Linked DNA regions of Homo sapiens: region 1 is linked to region 2. The links come from fine-mapping of genetic effects on gene expression. Tissue or cell type: whole blood. Region 2 holds a variant in brackets; the other region holds the start of a gene. All regions are shown on one strand. Distances are from middle to middle.

Region 1 (8,099 bases), 200 kb before region 2:
TGAGGAGAGAGGTCATCAGTCAAAGTTGTCAAGTTGAAGGCATATGACACTGAAGGCCAGGATTCTATTCTCTGCTCAGCATGGACTTGTTGAATGACCTTGGGCAAGTAACTACTCTGTCTGGGCAAAGTTTCTATGTCTGGACAATGAGGTGGTCAGGGTAAATCATTTCTGACACTTTTCAGATTCTTTAACTCTGTGGTTAACTGGTACCAAGAGGAGAAACATACAGGTTAACAGGCTCCTATCCCATGACTACCTAACCTGACTGGCTTAACTTATGTTTCTGCTTATCATTTCTTCTGTTACTGACTGGTCTATGCTGAAGCTCCCATTGATGCTAACGTGACTGGCCAGGGGGACAGAATCAGCCCCAGGATTTGAGTCCATTTATACAGGACTCATAACCACCCTAACTGCCTCTTCCAGCTGTAAACTGGCATTCAGATGAAGTGGTAACTTCTAGGGATGAGGTTCAAGAAGAGTTCAAACTTTCCTCCCTATATCTTTTTTTATGGTTATAAAATGCAAGTCCCAGTGGATGTTCCCTTGATGAATCTTATCTATTTAACCAGATGATAACCTCCAAGTTCAAGTATTTCTCTGAAACACAGCAATAATCACTGCCGAACCAGTAGCTGCTTTCTAAACTTGGAGACAAAATGTTCATTTGGAAAGACTAAGAAGTAGTGGACAAGTTGGCTGATCTTTTAAATTGGTCAGGGAGGGTCAGTTACCTTAATGACCAGAAGATCAACCACCCTGGGGTCTGTGACATGGGCATTCTTCATAAACATTTCTCGGACTTTATCCCGTCCCATTTTCACAGTGATGTCCAGCTGGAATTGGTGCACTAGAGAGAAAAACATGACTCAGGGTAGAAATTGTATGGTTAAATAAAACCTAGAGTCAAATGATACTCATTGAACACATACAGGTCGCCCATTCATTTCTTCACCAAAAAATTAGCCTGACCCTAGGCTAGGTGCTTGAGGATGAGACATGTGATTCATGGTATTTGCTCTCAAGGAACTTATTATTTGTTTGGGGAAAAAGACCACTGAATTTGAAGAGGCAGTAAAGCATTGTTCAAGAGTTTGAACAACCTGGGTTCAAATCCCAGCTTTTGTTAGCTATATGATCCCGTGTAAGTTAACTTTCTTGTGCCTGAGTGTATTTTTTAAAAAATTATTTTATGGGCTGGGCGCGGTGGCTCACGCCTGTAATCCCAGCACTTTGGGAGGCCGAGGTGGGCGGATCATGAGGTCAGGAGATCGAGACTACCCTGGCTAACACAGTGAAACCCCGTCTCTACTAAAAATACAAAAAATTAGCCGGGTGTGGTGGTGGGTGCCTGTAATTCCAGCTACTCGGGAGGCTGAGGCAGGAGAATGGTGTGAACCCGGGAGGTGGACCTTGCAGTGAGCCGAGGTCGCACCACTGCACTCCAGCCTGGGTGACAGAGCGAGACTCCGTCTCAAAAAAAATAATAATTATTTTATTAGCTGGGCGCGGTGGCTCACGCCTGTAATCCCAGCACTTTGGGAGGCCAAGGCAGGTGGATCACCTGAGGTCAGGAGTTCAAGACCAGCCTGGCCAACATGGTGAAACCCCGTCTCCACTAAAAATACAAACATGAGCCGGGCATGGTGGTGGGTGCCTGTAATCCCAGCTACTCGGGAGACTGAGGCAGGAGAATCACTTGAACCCGGGAGGTGGAGGGTGCAGTGAGCTGAGATGGGCCACTGCATTCCAGCCTGGGTGACAGAGTGAGACTGTGTCTCAAAAAAAAAAAAAAAAAAAGGCTGGGCGCGGTGGCTCACGCCTGTAATCCCAGCACTTTGGGAGGCCGAGGCGGGTGGATCATGAGGTCAGGAGATCGAGACCATCCTGGCTAACAAGGTGAAACCCCGTCTCTACTAAAAATACAAAAAATTAGCCGGGCGCGGTGGCGGGCGCCTGTAGTCCCAGCTACTCAGGAGGCTGAGGCAGGAGAATGGCGTGAACCCGGGAAGCGGAGCTTGCAGTGAGCCGAGATTGCGCCACTGCAGTCCGCAGTCCGGCCTGGGCGACAGAGCGAGACTCCGTCTCAAAAAAAATAATTATTATTTTATTAGCTGGGCGCGGTGGCTCACGCCTGTAATCCCAGCACTTTGGGAGGCCAAGGCAGGTGGATCACCTGAGGTCAGGAGTTCAAGACAGCCTGGCCAACATGGTGAAACCCCGTTTCTACTAAAAATACAAAAGTTAGCCAGGTGTGGTGGCACGCAACTATAATCCCAGCTACTCGGGAGGCTGAGGCATGGGGAAATCACTTGAACCCGGGAGGTGGAGGTTGCAGTGAGCCAAGATCGCGCCATTGCCCTCCAGCCTGGGAGACAAGAGCGAGACTCTGTCTCAAAAAAAAAAAAAAAAAAAAAAGTGAGTTATCATTACTGTTTTTTTCATTAAATACTTAAAATTTTACTTTTGTTTTTTATTAATGCTCAGGCTGTTCTAAGTTCTCAACACTATTACTTATTCCCCTTCCTTGATTTGATTCCTCAGCTGGAGTCCTGATGATGGATACCATAAAACCCGTGTGGCACAGGTTTGAGTAACTGGCCAGCTACAGATCACTGATCTTCCCCATAGGGATGCATACTCCTTGACCCCTTCTTTTCTCTCCTCTTCCCTTGCTTTCTAGGCTCCTGTAGCCCTCTGCCTTCTTTTCCTCCTCTCAAGACCCTTCTGACTTTGGGACTTTCTTCCCAAAACAGAATTTGAGGGAAGGTCTTGGGAGGGGTCGGTTTAGAAAGAGCTGGATCCTCAGAGTCAGGATACCTGGGTTCTGTCTTCTACTTGGCCACTGATTTACCCTTCACAAGCCACCCTTTTTGAATGTGGTCCTCCTTCCCCCAGCACCTTCCTCCTGCAACCAGAGAGGGTTCTGGGTACTCCTAGAAGTATTCTGCCAGGCAAACATTATGTTTTCAAACTGCTGAATTTGAATGCACCACCCCGAAACACACACACACACACACACACACACACTGCTACAGTCACTCCCCACACACATCTTTTATCTGCCTGCCCCTGAAGGCATCTGAATTTGCAGTCCCTGAACCAGCAGATCACTCAAGTTTCTCCTTCTCTAGTATCGCGTGGGTTTAAGTTCTGGTCAGTAGCAATTTTTCCAAAAGTCAGCTTGAAGACAGGGACTCTGTGGAGCAGACACAGTTCTCATATGTCAAAGAACCGGGTTCTGCTTGGAAGCTGCTGCTAAGGAAAGCCCTATAAATAACAAAAATAACAACAAAAACAACGGCAGCAGCTAATATTTAATGAGTTAAATATGCATCAAGTCCTGTTCTAAGCACTCTAGATATTTTAACTTAATACAGTAACCTTCTGAAGAAGGAATTATTATTCCCATTTTAAAGATGAAGAAACTGAGGAATAGATGAAATAACTGGCCCAAGGTCACACAGCTAGTTGAGGGCAGCGCCTGAAGAAAAGTCCGTGCTCCTAACCACCACATTCTACCGCCTTTTCACACACACAAGCAGGGACTCGACAGCCCTGAGGAGTGGCACCGTGCTCCAGCTCACTCAAAAACACCTCTTTCTCGCACTTTGGGAGGCCGAGACGGGCGGATCACGAGGTCAGGAGATCGAGACCATTCTGGCTAACACGGTGAAATCCCGTCTCTACTAAAAATACAAAAAAAAATGGCCGGCGTGGTGGCGGGCGCCTGTAATCCCAGCTATTCGGGAGGCTGAGGCTGAGGCAGGAGAATGACGTGAATCCGGGAGGCGGAGCTTGCAGTGAGCCGAGATCGCACCACTGCACTCCAGCCTGAGCGACACAGCGAGACTCTGTCACAAACAAAAAAATCCAACGGGCATCTATAATTACACTCTGCAACTCTAGACTTTGGGTTCTGGGTACAACAGTGGCTCGGCCTGGGCCCTGGGCACATCACTTCACCTCTCGGTGCCTCCGCTGCCTCACCCACAAAGTGAGTGTGTCACTGACAGTCATCGTCCTCCCGCCAATTGCGAAGGACAAAAGAGACCAAAGCTCCGATAGCACGTACGAATGCTAGGCACGGCCGGTCTGACCACCGCGCCGCCGCCAGGTCCGGCCCATGGTAGGCTCGGGTGACCCTCTTCCCCTGAAGCACCCGCAGTCGCCTCTGCCCAAGTTGGTGACCTCAGCTGGGCCCATGAGAAACCCCGGCCGGGCCGGCTACGACCTTGAGCGGCGGCCTCCGGGTCCCCACGTAAGCCGCTACCTCTCACCAGTGTTCGGCACCTCCCGATACCAGGCGCGGTAGAGCTCGCGCACCCTCCGCTTGGCCTCGTTCATGTCCCGACTGAAAATGGGCTTCACGAAGGTGCTGGCGGTAGAAGTAGCTTGGCGGACGCCGCTCCCCGCCATCTTGCCAAAGCATCCACTCCACAACCCCACCCCTTTGCAAGCAGCGCGTGCGGACCGCGGGCGAATGTCTTTTCCCATTGGCTAAGGAGGAACGCCCCGCCTGTATGCTGGGTGGGCGGGAGGATGACTCTGAGGCTCTCGGATTGGCTGGGAAGCCTCTCTCTGGCTGAGCGAACGGTGGGTGCTGCGCATGCTCATCTACAGAAACGCCGCTTGGCCTTTGGACTACACCATCTGTCGCTCGCTCTAACGAGCCGGCGTTGCCGCCAGGGGACGCTCGGGCCGCAGGAGGTCGCTGGGTCGTGAGCTGGCGCCGGGGACGCCGAGCGACTGCGGGGTTTCCCTCAGCGTCCTGCTATCCGGCTGCCCGCCGCGCTCCTTGGTAGTGTCCGTGGGCGCGCAGGCCTTGAAGAACCTCCTCGTGGCGGGACCCCGAGGTAACTGCTGAGGCAGATAATGGCGCCTGGGCTGCGGTGGGGCTTGTCCTGCCGCCTGGCGGCTTTCTGCAGGGCCAGGATATACTTACTTTTCTGTAAACCAACTCTTCCTTAGCGCAGGAGAGGTGTCAAAGAGCTGGCGCGTCTCCAGAGCCCCGGGAGGAAGGCTGTAACGGCAGCCCCATCGTAGACAGGGACATTCGCATCCCGAGCCCTGGATCTCTGAAAACCAGCCCAGAATTTGGAAGCTGGAAGGAACTTTAGATCGTCCATTCTGAGTGTCTCTCTTCGCTGGCGTTTTCCCACTGAGGTTATGTAAACATGAAGAGGAGCCTACAAGTGTCAAGGAAAAAACGACAGCTAACCACAGGGCAGGCCATGGGCAAGATATCTCAGTGTTCTCCGCTCTCATAGGTCAGGTAGGTACCTCAGCATCCCCATTTTACAGGTGAGGAAACTGAGATGGCCCAGAGTCTAGGTCACCTGACAGATCGCCCCCACCTGCCTGACTGCTGCCTAAGAGGCTCCGTCTTTTTCTGAAGGTGTAGTTGACAGGAGCCTGTGAGTATTGGGGAAGGGCCAGGGGCCGGGGCTGAGCATCTACTCCAAACTTTCCCATTTCGAAGGGTTAAAAAACCAGATATACTTTTTTTCTTCCTTATTATCTTCTAAAATGTATATATATATTCAAGTGAGCTATACAAAAGAAAGCACGTAACATATATAAATTATAAAGCATAATAATAAAATGGAAGCTTTTGAACCTCAGTACTGACTTAAGAAGTTGTAACACAGTTAAGGTTTGTATAAAGTGTCCTTAGATGTCCTTAGTAGCCACTGTTCTCTAGTTCTCTAGGTACATTAACTTGGCTAGGCTTCACAACACACCAGTGAGATTGTGTTGATATACCCTTTTTTTTTTTTTTTTTTGAGACAGAGTGAGACTCACCTAGGCTGGACTGCAATGGTGCAATCTCGGCTCACTGCAACCTCCGCCTCTCATGTTCAAGCCATTCTCCTGCCTCAGCTTTCCGAATCGCTGGGATTACAGGTGCGCACCACCATGCATGGCTAATGCTTGTATTTTAGTAGAGACGGGGTTTTGCTATGTTGGCCAGGCTGGTCTCAAACTCCTGACTTCAGGTGATCCACCCACCTCAGCCTCCCAAAGTGCTGGGATTACAGGTGTGAGCCACTGCCCCCGGCTGATATACTCATTTTATAGATGAGAAAACTGAGGCACAAAGAGACTAAGTTACTTTACAGCATTGGGGTTGAAGCCCAGGCAGCTGGTGCCAGAGTCAGTTTTCTGACTCTCGCAGCACCTATACCATGATATCTACCTGTATGATTCTAACCTTGTGTATACCCCTGCCTCCTTCAGAAGTACCCACTATCATGATAAATTCATTGTGTTCAACATTCAAAAAAAAAATGGGGCGCAGTGGCTCACTCCTGTAATCCCAACACTTTGGGAGGCCAAGGCAGGTGTATCACCTGATGTCAGGAGTTCGAGACCAGCCTGGCCAACATGGTGAAACCCCCGTCTCTACTAAAAATACAAAAATTAGCCGGCATGGTGGTGGGCACCTGTAATCTCAGCTACTCGGGAGGCTGAGGCAGGAGGATCGCTTGAGCCCGCGAGGTGGAGGTTGCGGTGAGCCAAGATTGCGCCGCTGGACTCCAGTCTGGGCGACAGAGTGAGACCCTGTCTCAAAAGGAAAAGAAAAAAAAGACCTCTAAACAACCCACAAACTGGGAGAAAATTTTTGCAAATCACATGTTCCATAAGGGACTTGTATCTAGGATACATAAAATTCTTACAACTCAGTAATGAAAAGACAAATAGCCAAGTTTAGAAATGGGCAAGGGAGACAACACCAAATGCTGGTGAGGATGTGAAGCAACAGGAACTCTCCTTACTGGTAGGAACGCAAAATGGTACAGCAGCTTTGGAAGACAGTTTGGCTTTCTGACAAAACTAAACATACTCCCATCAGAAGATCCAGCCATTGCATTCCTTAGTGTTTACCCAAATGAGCTGAAAACTTATGTCCACACAGAAACCTGCACATGGATGTTTACAGCAGCTTTTGTTTTTGTTTTTGTTTTTGAGATGGAGTCTCGCTCTGTCACCCAGGGTGGAGTGCAGTGGCGCGATCTCGGCTCACTGGAAGCTCTGCCTCCTGGGTTCACGCCATTCTCCTGCCTCAGCCTCCAAGTAGCTGGGACTACAGGCGCCTGCCACGAAGCCCAGCTAATTTTTTGTATTTTAAGTAGAGACGGGGTTTCACCATGTTAGCCAGGATGGTCTCGATCTCCTGACCTCGTGATCTGCCCGCCTTGGCCTCCCAAAGTTCTGGGACTACAGGCGTGAGCCACCGCTCCCGGCCAGCAGCAGCTTTATTTGTAATTGCCAAAACTTGAAAGCAACCAAGATGTCCTTTAGCAGGTAAATGGATAAATAAACCTTGGTATATCCAGACAATGGACTATATTCAGCACTAGAAAGAAATGAGCTATTAAGCCATGAAAAGGCATGGAGAAACCTTAAATGCATATTAGTAAGTGAAAGAAGACAATCTGAAAGAGCTACATACTGTATGATTCCAACTATATTACATCCTGGAAAAGGCAAAACTATGGAGACAATAAAAAAGATGGCAGGGGCTGGGAGTGGGGAGAAATGCACAGAGGTGGTGCACAGAGAATATTTAGGGTAGTGAAATTACTCTGGATGTTATAATGGTGGATACATGTTATTACACATTTGTCAAACCCTACAGGATGTACAACACCAAGAATGAAACCTAATGTAAACTATGGGATATGGGTGATACTGGTGTGTCAATGTAGCTTCATTGCTTATAACAAATATATCCTCTGGTGCCTGATGTTGTTGGTGGGGGGAGGCTATGAGTGTGTGTGGGGTGGGGGAACCCTGTATTTTCTGTTCAGTTTTGCTGTGAACTCGAAACTGCTCTTAAAGATGAAATTTTTATTTTAATGGGTAAAGTATTTGAATAACCATTTCTCCAAAGAGGATATACGGGTGACCAATAAGTACATGAAAAGACATTCAACATCATGAGCCATTAGGGAAATAAAAATCAAAACCCTCGTGAGATACCATTTCTCACCCAGTAGAATGGCTAGAGTGAAAAAGGCAGACACAGCCAGTCACGGTGGCTCACACCTGTAATCCCAGCATTTTGAGAGGCCAAGGCCAGTAGATCACTT
Region 2 (8,100 bases):
TGCTACTTAGCGCCAGATTAATCACACCGAATTCTCCATCCAGATATTGCGTGCAGGCCGAACTCCCACCGCTAATCGCCGTAATATTCTCCTCGGCGTGTGCAGGCGGCCGGGGCGATGTTCCAGGAATATTAATTCTCCACAGCCGGCTCACTCCCGCCGCACGCATGCGCCCCCTGCACCGCCGGCTGCTGCTTGGGGAGCGGGGGTCAGCCAGGGGGACAAGGGCCAGCAGGAGGCAGGGCTGGGCCCCAATCCTTGCTGGGGGCCAGGGCCAGAGGTGGGCCAGAGCCTGCAGCAGGGCCTGCCCCCTTCATCCTGTCTCTTCTCCCAGTCCTGACCCCCAGTACCCTGCCCTAGGATGTGCAGGAGGCTCGGGGCCCCTGAGAAGCGGCCCAGCACAGGCCGTCTGATGTCCTCTCAACACAGCAGAGCTCCGAGGAACTGGCAGCCAGGGGCTAGCTAATCCCAGCCAAAACACACGGAATGAGAATCGTTCAGAATCTTTCATCTGCTCAAAATATAAAAACCCCAGTGAAGGGAGGCTGGGTCAGCTGTGGGTGTGACCAGGCCATGGAGCGGGCAGGCTGGGGGCACGTGGGAGGCCTCTGCTCCTGACCTTTGCTTAGCACAGGCAGGGGACCCTCTCCCCACAGTGTGGCCTGTGATATTAGAGCCAAGGGCAGGCTGGGAGGGAAAGGCTTCTGGTTTCTGGAGGGTACCAGAGGAGAAGGAGCGCGTGCCCCTGAGCCCACTCGCTGTGGCTGCAGCATACACCGCTGGGCCTGCCCCTTCAGCGTTGGTCGCTGGGCTAACACTAGGCCTGGGGATGAGGCTGGGATGAGATGCTGGCCTCAAGGACAATTCAAGGCAATTCAAGGACGAGGTCAGCCTCCCAGAGCACACAGGGGCCTTGGGGCAGGCCTGCTGCCCATCCTGGTCCACTGAAGACCCTAGAACAGTGCTGGGAGGACTCACATCTTCAGGGGCTTTGCAAAGCACCCCCTCTTACCTTACCTCGGTACAACCTCAGTACAACCATGAGAGGCAGCTTGAAAATGCCCATTTACAAATAAGGAAACTGAGGCATGGAGAGGTGAAGTAAGGGGTCCAGCCAGATCCGTCCCCAGGCTGCCAGGATCGGAACCTAGGGTCCTCTCCTCTGGACAGTGGAGCCTCACTCCATGCCCCATCCTTCCCGTCTCTGGGACTCCATCTCCTCTTCTCTGAACATTTTAAGGTCCTCCCAGTCCCCACAAACTGTCCAACAAACACAAGCATTTATTGAGTGCCTCCTGTGTGCCAGGGATCCAGAAATGCATGATGTTACTTAAGAAGCTCACAGTCTGGTGGAAAGGAAAGTAAGTAAACCAATGACCGCGGTCCAGCCTGAGCCCCAGGGGAGGGGCCCTCCCCACAGCCTTGGGGTTAGACAGGGCTTCCAGGAGGAAGCATTCCCTGAGGAGAGGGCAGTGTGTGGAGCGGCAAAGGAAGGGGATCTCCATACTAGAGTCTCGACCAGGGTAGACAGATGTGTGTCCTGAGCCCGCTGGAGGTCATAGGCCTCAGGGCTGCCCCTCGGCAAAGCAGCTGGACCGTCTGGACTATGAGCCCTGGGGCAGCAGCAGCAGTGCCTGTGCTGGGACCGCCTCTGGGAGATGTCATCTGCCAAGAGAGCAGTTTTCCTGATGGTGCATGCAGCAAAGGCAGCCCCTGCATGGGGAATCAGAGGAGAGCAAGAAGGGTGTGGCTGAGAGGGGAACAGATGGGGTGCTGGGCAGGACTGCTGTGGATCCAGGTGGATCCTGACCCGGCTGCCTGGCCTAGCCCAGGCTGGGCAAAGGTGGAGTCCTGGGGCCACAAGATGCCTAGGAGGGGCCTCTTGAGCCAGGGTCTCCTGATTCTGGTCCAGAGCACAGATACACACAAAGGCAGCCCAGCCTAAAGAAGCAAGCAGAAGGGCTAGCGTGAGGGGGTGGGGCCCTACCCAATTCCTTTCCAGCACAGATTAAGAGCATCCAAGTTGAAACCACAGATGTGAGGGAGGAAGGTCAGGCCCCTGGCTCCATGATCCTCCCTGACAACAGCCAGCACCTATTGTCTCCTGCCCCTGTGGACCTGAGGTCTCTGACCTGGGTAAAAGCAGGCACCTCTCACACACCACCCCTCGTATGAGACCCGTGAGCACTAATGGGGCCTCACTCCCATTTCTTAGATAAAGAAACTTAGCACAGCACCCATAGGCCCTCCTGTCATGCTGGGCTCTCTGCCCATAGTCTCACAGGGTATGGACGAGGGTCAGCACCCCCATTTTGCAAGAAGAAAGCTCACCCAGGTCCCACGGCGGTAGTAGGCAATACCTTACAGTTCCCAGGGTTGGGCCTGCGTGTTCCGTGTCCTGATCCGCTGAGGCCCCAGTGCTAAAATCAGGCCACGTGCACTAGGTCAAGGATGCCACAGAAGGAGCCCTTTCTGGCCTCATCCTGCCCTGCAGTCCCCAAACATGGTTCTGTGCCCTGGACTCACTTGACAGATGAGGAATCCGAGGCAGAGCTGGGACTCAGCTAGGACCCAGCACATACGCTGAGGATAGGGACATAACAAGGGCTCAGCCTGGCCCTCAATGAGGTAACATCCTGCGTGTCAACTGTAACCAAGGTAGGTTGTGAGATGCCAGAAGAGTGGGCAGCACGGTGGCCTGGATAAATCCCAGAAGGCATCCCAGAAGAGGGGGTGTTTAAGCAGGAACTTGGAGGACAAGGAGGCCTGTTTGAGCTGCAAAGCAGCACACACCTGGGACACAGGACCCCACGGCTAGGAAGACAAGGCTCGGATTGGATTCTCAGGCCTCTCTGCTCCCAGCCAGCCCCTCTGCGCCTCCAGGGCCGGCCGAGCACTAGCCCAGGCCCAGGAGAATCTACTGAATGACCGGGTCTCAGCTTGAGCGGCACAGACACATGGCTGGTGTGACCCTTCCACTGTCCCCAGCGCTGGATACTAGATCCCACATCCCCCTCCCACTCTGTCCTGCCCACCAGGAGTGGCGGGGTTTGAATTTCAGGAGCTGGGCCTCATAGGCAGGGCAGAAAGGCCAGGGAGTGGGGCCCAGCTCTGGGGCAAGGCAGGGCAGGATACAAAGCCCCGGGGCCAGCTCCCAGCAGGAGGCCTCCTGGCCAGGCCCAAGCCCAGGAGGAGGCCAAGTGTCCTTCCTTGGCACCTTCCCTAAAAGATTCAATAGTGTAGTGTTGGCCCCCCAG[C/G]CCCTCGAATAGGGGGAAGATCCAAGGTCAGACCCAGCTTCTCCACTCCTGGCTGACTCTGAGCAAACTGCCACCCTGCTCCAGCCCCAGTGTGCTCAACTGAAACAGGAGCTGGATACACCTGTCTTGCAAGGTTATTGCCAGGATTCAGAGTATTGTCCCTAGGTGGGTGCCAAACAAAAAGGGCAAAGGTCAGCTCATTCCCTAGGGCTCGGCATTCAGACAGACCCAGGGGAATAAAACCAGGTGGTTTCCTGGAGGTGGGAATTCCCATTTGACCTCCTTTATCCTGCATGACTACCTGGGGAGGGTGGTTCTCATTCCACAAATGAGAGTCTGAGGACAGCGGGGTGAGGGGGCTCAGCCAAGGTCACAGAGCTCCCAATCTCAGGTGTCCCTGCCTGACTCTGTAAGGGGGTATCTTCAGGCTATGGGAAGGGGAGGGTAGGGAGGAGGCCTGGGGCACCTTAACCAGCCCACTGGCCAACCCTAGCCTAAGGGCAGGCCTGGGGAGGCAAGAGGCTTAGCCCCCAGCTTGGAGTAAGAAAAGAATGCCCTCAGGCTGGGCGCGGTGGCTCAGGCCTGTAATCCCAGCACTTTGGGAGGCCAAGGCGGGCAGATCACGAGGTCAGGAGTTTGAGACCAGCCCGACCAACATGGTGAAACACCGTCTCTACTAACATTACAAAAATTAGCCGGGTGTGGTGGCATGAGCCTGTAATCCCAGCTACTCAGGAGGCTGAGGCAGGAGAATCGCTTGAACCCTGGAGCCGGAGGTTGCAGTGAGGCAAAACTGCACCACAGCACTCCACCCTGGGCCACAAAGGGAGACTCCGTCTCAAAGAACGCCCTCAGCTGCCCATGTCTCCATTTGGGCTCTCACAGGGGCTTGTTTTGAAAGCCAGGAAGTGATAGAGCCCTAGGACAGGAGCCAGGAAGAGCCTGGGAAGTGGGAACATCCCCGCAGGGCCAGCCTCACAGTGGGGAATCCTCCCTCCCCACACACACACCCGCCAGCCCGCTCCACCCCGGTCACATCCTGCCACTGCACCTGCAGTGCGGTGCATTAATAGAGCACAAACCCTGCGTGCACTACACTGGCAGGCACCTGCCAATCTCAGCCCGCGACCCCGCCCTAGCCCCCTCTCCCGGAGGACAGATAATTCTCTTGCTCTCCCAGCCTGACAAAATAACTAATGCTAACTCAATAAAGTTCCCCTTGAAGGTTTTTAATTACCAGACTGTGCTGAAGACTAAAGACTCCAGGAGCGGGAGGGAGGCCAGGGAAGGCTGCTGGGGGTCGGCGTGGCAGAGGCAGGGAAGTCACTGGCAGGCAGTGCTCCCAGGCGAGCAGGTTGGGAAAGGGCCCTCCCTCCCAGCTCCGGGAGAGGGCAGGGCCAGGCTGTTGCTGTCCAGGGTGCTGGGCCCAGCGGTCACAAGGATTTAGGACTCACATTTTCAACAGCGGCCACTGATGGAGGCCAGGCTAGGCTCCTGGCAGGGACTTGATGGAGATTATCTCATTTAGGCCTCACAGCCAACCACAAAGTAGACGCTGATGTCCCAACTCTGTAGATGAGGACAATGAGGCTCAGAGGTGGGCAGTGGCTTGCTGTGGTCACACACCACGCCTGGACTGTCCAACTGCAGCAGGTGCAGGCGGAGTGCCTGGCAGCCTGCAGAGGGGAATACACACCGGTGCTGTGGTTGGGTGGAGGGCCCTGGGGGACAGGGATGACCCTCAGATAGGATCCAAAGGTGCTTGATGGCTTCTGTGCAGGGAGACATGCTGGCGCTGGCAGGATTGAGGCTGCCCAAGGAAACCTACGCGCTGCCTAGAGGCAGGGGCCGCCTGGTTGGGCCCACCTGGAACACCACCAGCCATGGGCAAGGGACCTGAAGACCCAGTGATGAACCCCCACTGCCACTGAGGGAGATGACAGCGTGGGGGGCAGGGCACAGGAGGAGAGAGGGTGACACAGTCTGGTCCCTAAGCCTCCTAACCCCAGCCTGGGCCCTTCCTCCTTGATGGAGAGAGAAGACAGTAACATTTGAGGTGAAGCATACAGCTGCCCCTGCACCATAGCCACCCTAAACTCCTCTTTTGCTGCAGCCTCCCCACCCTCTGTGAGCCAGCCCTACCCTTTCAGCCCCATTCACTCCACACTCCCCACCGCTGGGCTGCCTTCTGGTCCTTCCCACCTGGCAAGCCTGCTGCTGCCTTGGGGCCTCTGCCCTGGCTGTCCCCCTCCCTGAGATGCTCCTCCCTTATGTTTTCTTTTCTTTTTTTTTTTTTTTTTTGAGACAGAGTTTTGCTCTTGTTGCCCGGGCTGGAGTGCAATGGCACAATCTCGGCTCACTGCAACCTCCGCCTCCCAGGTTCAAGCAATTCTCCTGCCTCAGCCTCCTGAGGAGCTGGGATTACAGGCAGGCACCACCACGCCCGGCTAATTTTGTATTTTTAGTAGAGACAGGGTTTCTCCATGTTGAGGCTAGTCTCGAACTCCTAACCTCAAGTGATCCACCCACCTCAGCCTCCCAAAGTGTTGGGATTACAGGCGTGAGCCACCGCGCCCGGCCTACTCCCTTATGTTTTCATACAACCAGCTCATGTCCTTCAGGCCAAAGCCTAAATGACACCTCCTCAGAGAAGCCTTCCTTGAACTCCCCACCTCAGCAGCAGAAATCCTGTGCAGCCTTCAGCCCCAACCCATATACCCATCCCCTCCTCCTCCAGGCAGGCTTTCCACACAGCGTGACCAGTTCCCACATGGTACAGGCTGCCCTCCACAAGACCCTGGGCATCACTGAGGGCATGGACTTTGAAGCCAGCAAGCTGGGGTTCCAATCTTGCCTTCCCCGTTTTCTAGCTATAGATGGATCTGTTTCCTCATCCGTAAAATGGGGGTAAGAACAGTCCTTAGCCCATCTGAGTTTTGTGAGGACTACCGAGTGAAGATGTGTCAGGACTTAGACCCCTGCCTGGCAGGTGAGTGCTTGGCAGTGCAGGATCACCATCATGACCACCATCATCATCTTCAGCAGCAGCCTGGCCTCCCCGAGCCAGGCCTCAGCGAACGGGATGCTGTGTCCTTGACCCCCAGCACAGGCCCTGGACACATGGACACTCAGCAAGTACTGGCTCAGTGTCTGACCCTGTGAGACAGGCCTGAGGATGTGAACAGCTCCCACTGCCCTGGCTGCACTCTTTGCTGCTGCTTTGCAAACCTGCAACGGCGCCAACTTGGGGGTGGTGCCGAGAGCCAGTGCAGCTGTGCCCGGCTCCCCAAGGGCCATGAGGGGCAGTTGGAGGCCCCAACACCCAGCCCTGCCTGGAGTCTCCTGGCCGGGATCACAGCCCTGCGGCGTTCGAGCTGCTGCCCACCAGCCGGCCCCCTGGCATTGGGCCCGGGATGCCAGCCAGCCAGAGAGGAAGCAGCTTGGCTGGCAGCCAGCTCACAGTGCCCGAGCTGTCAGCCGGGAGGCAGGCCAGGCAGGGCTGAGACCCCCACCCCCAAACAGGGCTCCAGCCAGGCAGTGCGACAGGGCCAAGTTTCTCCTCACCACCCGAGCCACAAGGGGGCCCTGCTGATGCCAGCCCCAAGCAGGGCTCAGGGATGTAATCACGCTGCAGGGGGACCCAGGAGGCCCCGTCGCCATTTATTCAGCTCAGCTTTTCGCGAATGAGAAAGCAGCACGAGGAGCAGGGGGAGATTTTCAAGTCAAATAACAGTAAAAACAGCAGCAACTACAGCTGACACTCAGCAAGCACTCACTCCATGCCAGGTGCTCCATGCACTCCGGCACTGACATCTCTCCAAAGGAAGGTGCTATAGTTAAACCCACTCTACAGATGTGGCAACTGAGTTCAGAGAGGTGCAGTAACCCACCCAGAACCACACAGCAAACTGGAGAAGTCAGTTTAAACTTGGGCCCCAGAACCTGTGTCCCAACCCCTATGCACTACTGGTTCAGGCAGGCCTCAGTGCCCATACCCACAATGGATGGCCCAGCTGGGCGACCTTGGGCAAGGAGGCTGCCCATCTGGAAAATGGGCATGATCAGAGAGGGCTACGCTGTAGAACTGACCAGGGGGCTGAAAAAAGAAAAACAGGTGAGGAGCTACTTCCTGTCCCCTGCCAGGCCTGAGCAGAGGTCAGACTCCCTAGCTGGCTTAAGGGTTGGTCATATTCATGGAGCGGCAAGAATGAGGAGTGGGTCCTCATTTGCATTAGACGGTAAATCTAAGGACACTGGTTGTGCCTTCTTTTTACCAGCAACAAGAACTCATCAGAGCCCCTCCCAACCTTCTCCCATCCCCCACTGCCTCCTGAGCACCCTCCAAGGGCACAGCTGGGTGAGCCCCATGGCTGGGCTGGAGGGGCCAGACACTGGGGAGGGGCAGTTCACAGGGTCAGCCATGAAAGCCCATGATCCCTGAGCCTCGAGCTCAGCCCCCAGGAGCTTCCCCTTCATAACCTCTTCTCCCAACCCAGACCAGGCAGACTTAGGAAATACTGGCCAGAGAGAATCTTGAGCCACACAATTCAGACAAATGTGTGTGGACTCCCCTCTTGCCCCACAAACCACAACAGAAGGCCTCGGGTCGCATCCCCCCACCAGCTGGGGCCCCTGTCAGGCAGGGCCCAGCATTCCTGGCTGATGGTGAGGAGATGAGACCCAGGGTGGAAGGAACACATGGAGGGTTCACAGCAGGGCTCCTCTCTGGCACCCATGCAGAGCAGGCAAGGATGAACATGTGCTGGTTTCAGGGCTGGGCCTGGGGGTGCAAAGGTGACCGCTCAGCCCAGCTGCTCACATCTGTACAAAGTGGTGGGGCTTT

Evidence for each region. PIP is the estimated chance that this variant, and not a neighbour inherited with it, causes the effect.
Region 1: it holds the start of NDUFA6-DT, and the variant in region 2 is fine-mapped to the expression of NDUFA6-DT in whole blood (TOPMed, PIP 0.93).

What each region holds. Positions count from the first base shown.
Region 1 is chr22:42,086,323-42,094,421 of GRCh38, forward strand. NDUFA6-DT (NDUFA6 divergent transcript) reads left to right here and starts at 4,611. Exons shown (of 5, transcript NR_034118.2): 1 at 4,611-4,859; 2 at 4,975-5,278; 3 at 5,797-5,910. It overlaps NDUFA6 (NADH:ubiquinone oxidoreductase subunit A6), which reads right to left and starts at 4,450. Exons shown (of 3, transcript NM_002490.6): 1 at 4,284-4,450; 2 at 738-853. The coding sequence starts at 4,422.
Region 2 is chr22:42,289,903-42,298,002 of GRCh38, forward strand. It overlaps a transcript of TCF20 not described here. Among named protein-coding and RNA genes, the nearest start is that of TCF20, 23 kb to the left of the region's middle. RefSeq lists enhancers at 4,731-5,544, 7,859-8,100. The variant C/G (reference allele first, on the strand shown) is at 3,258.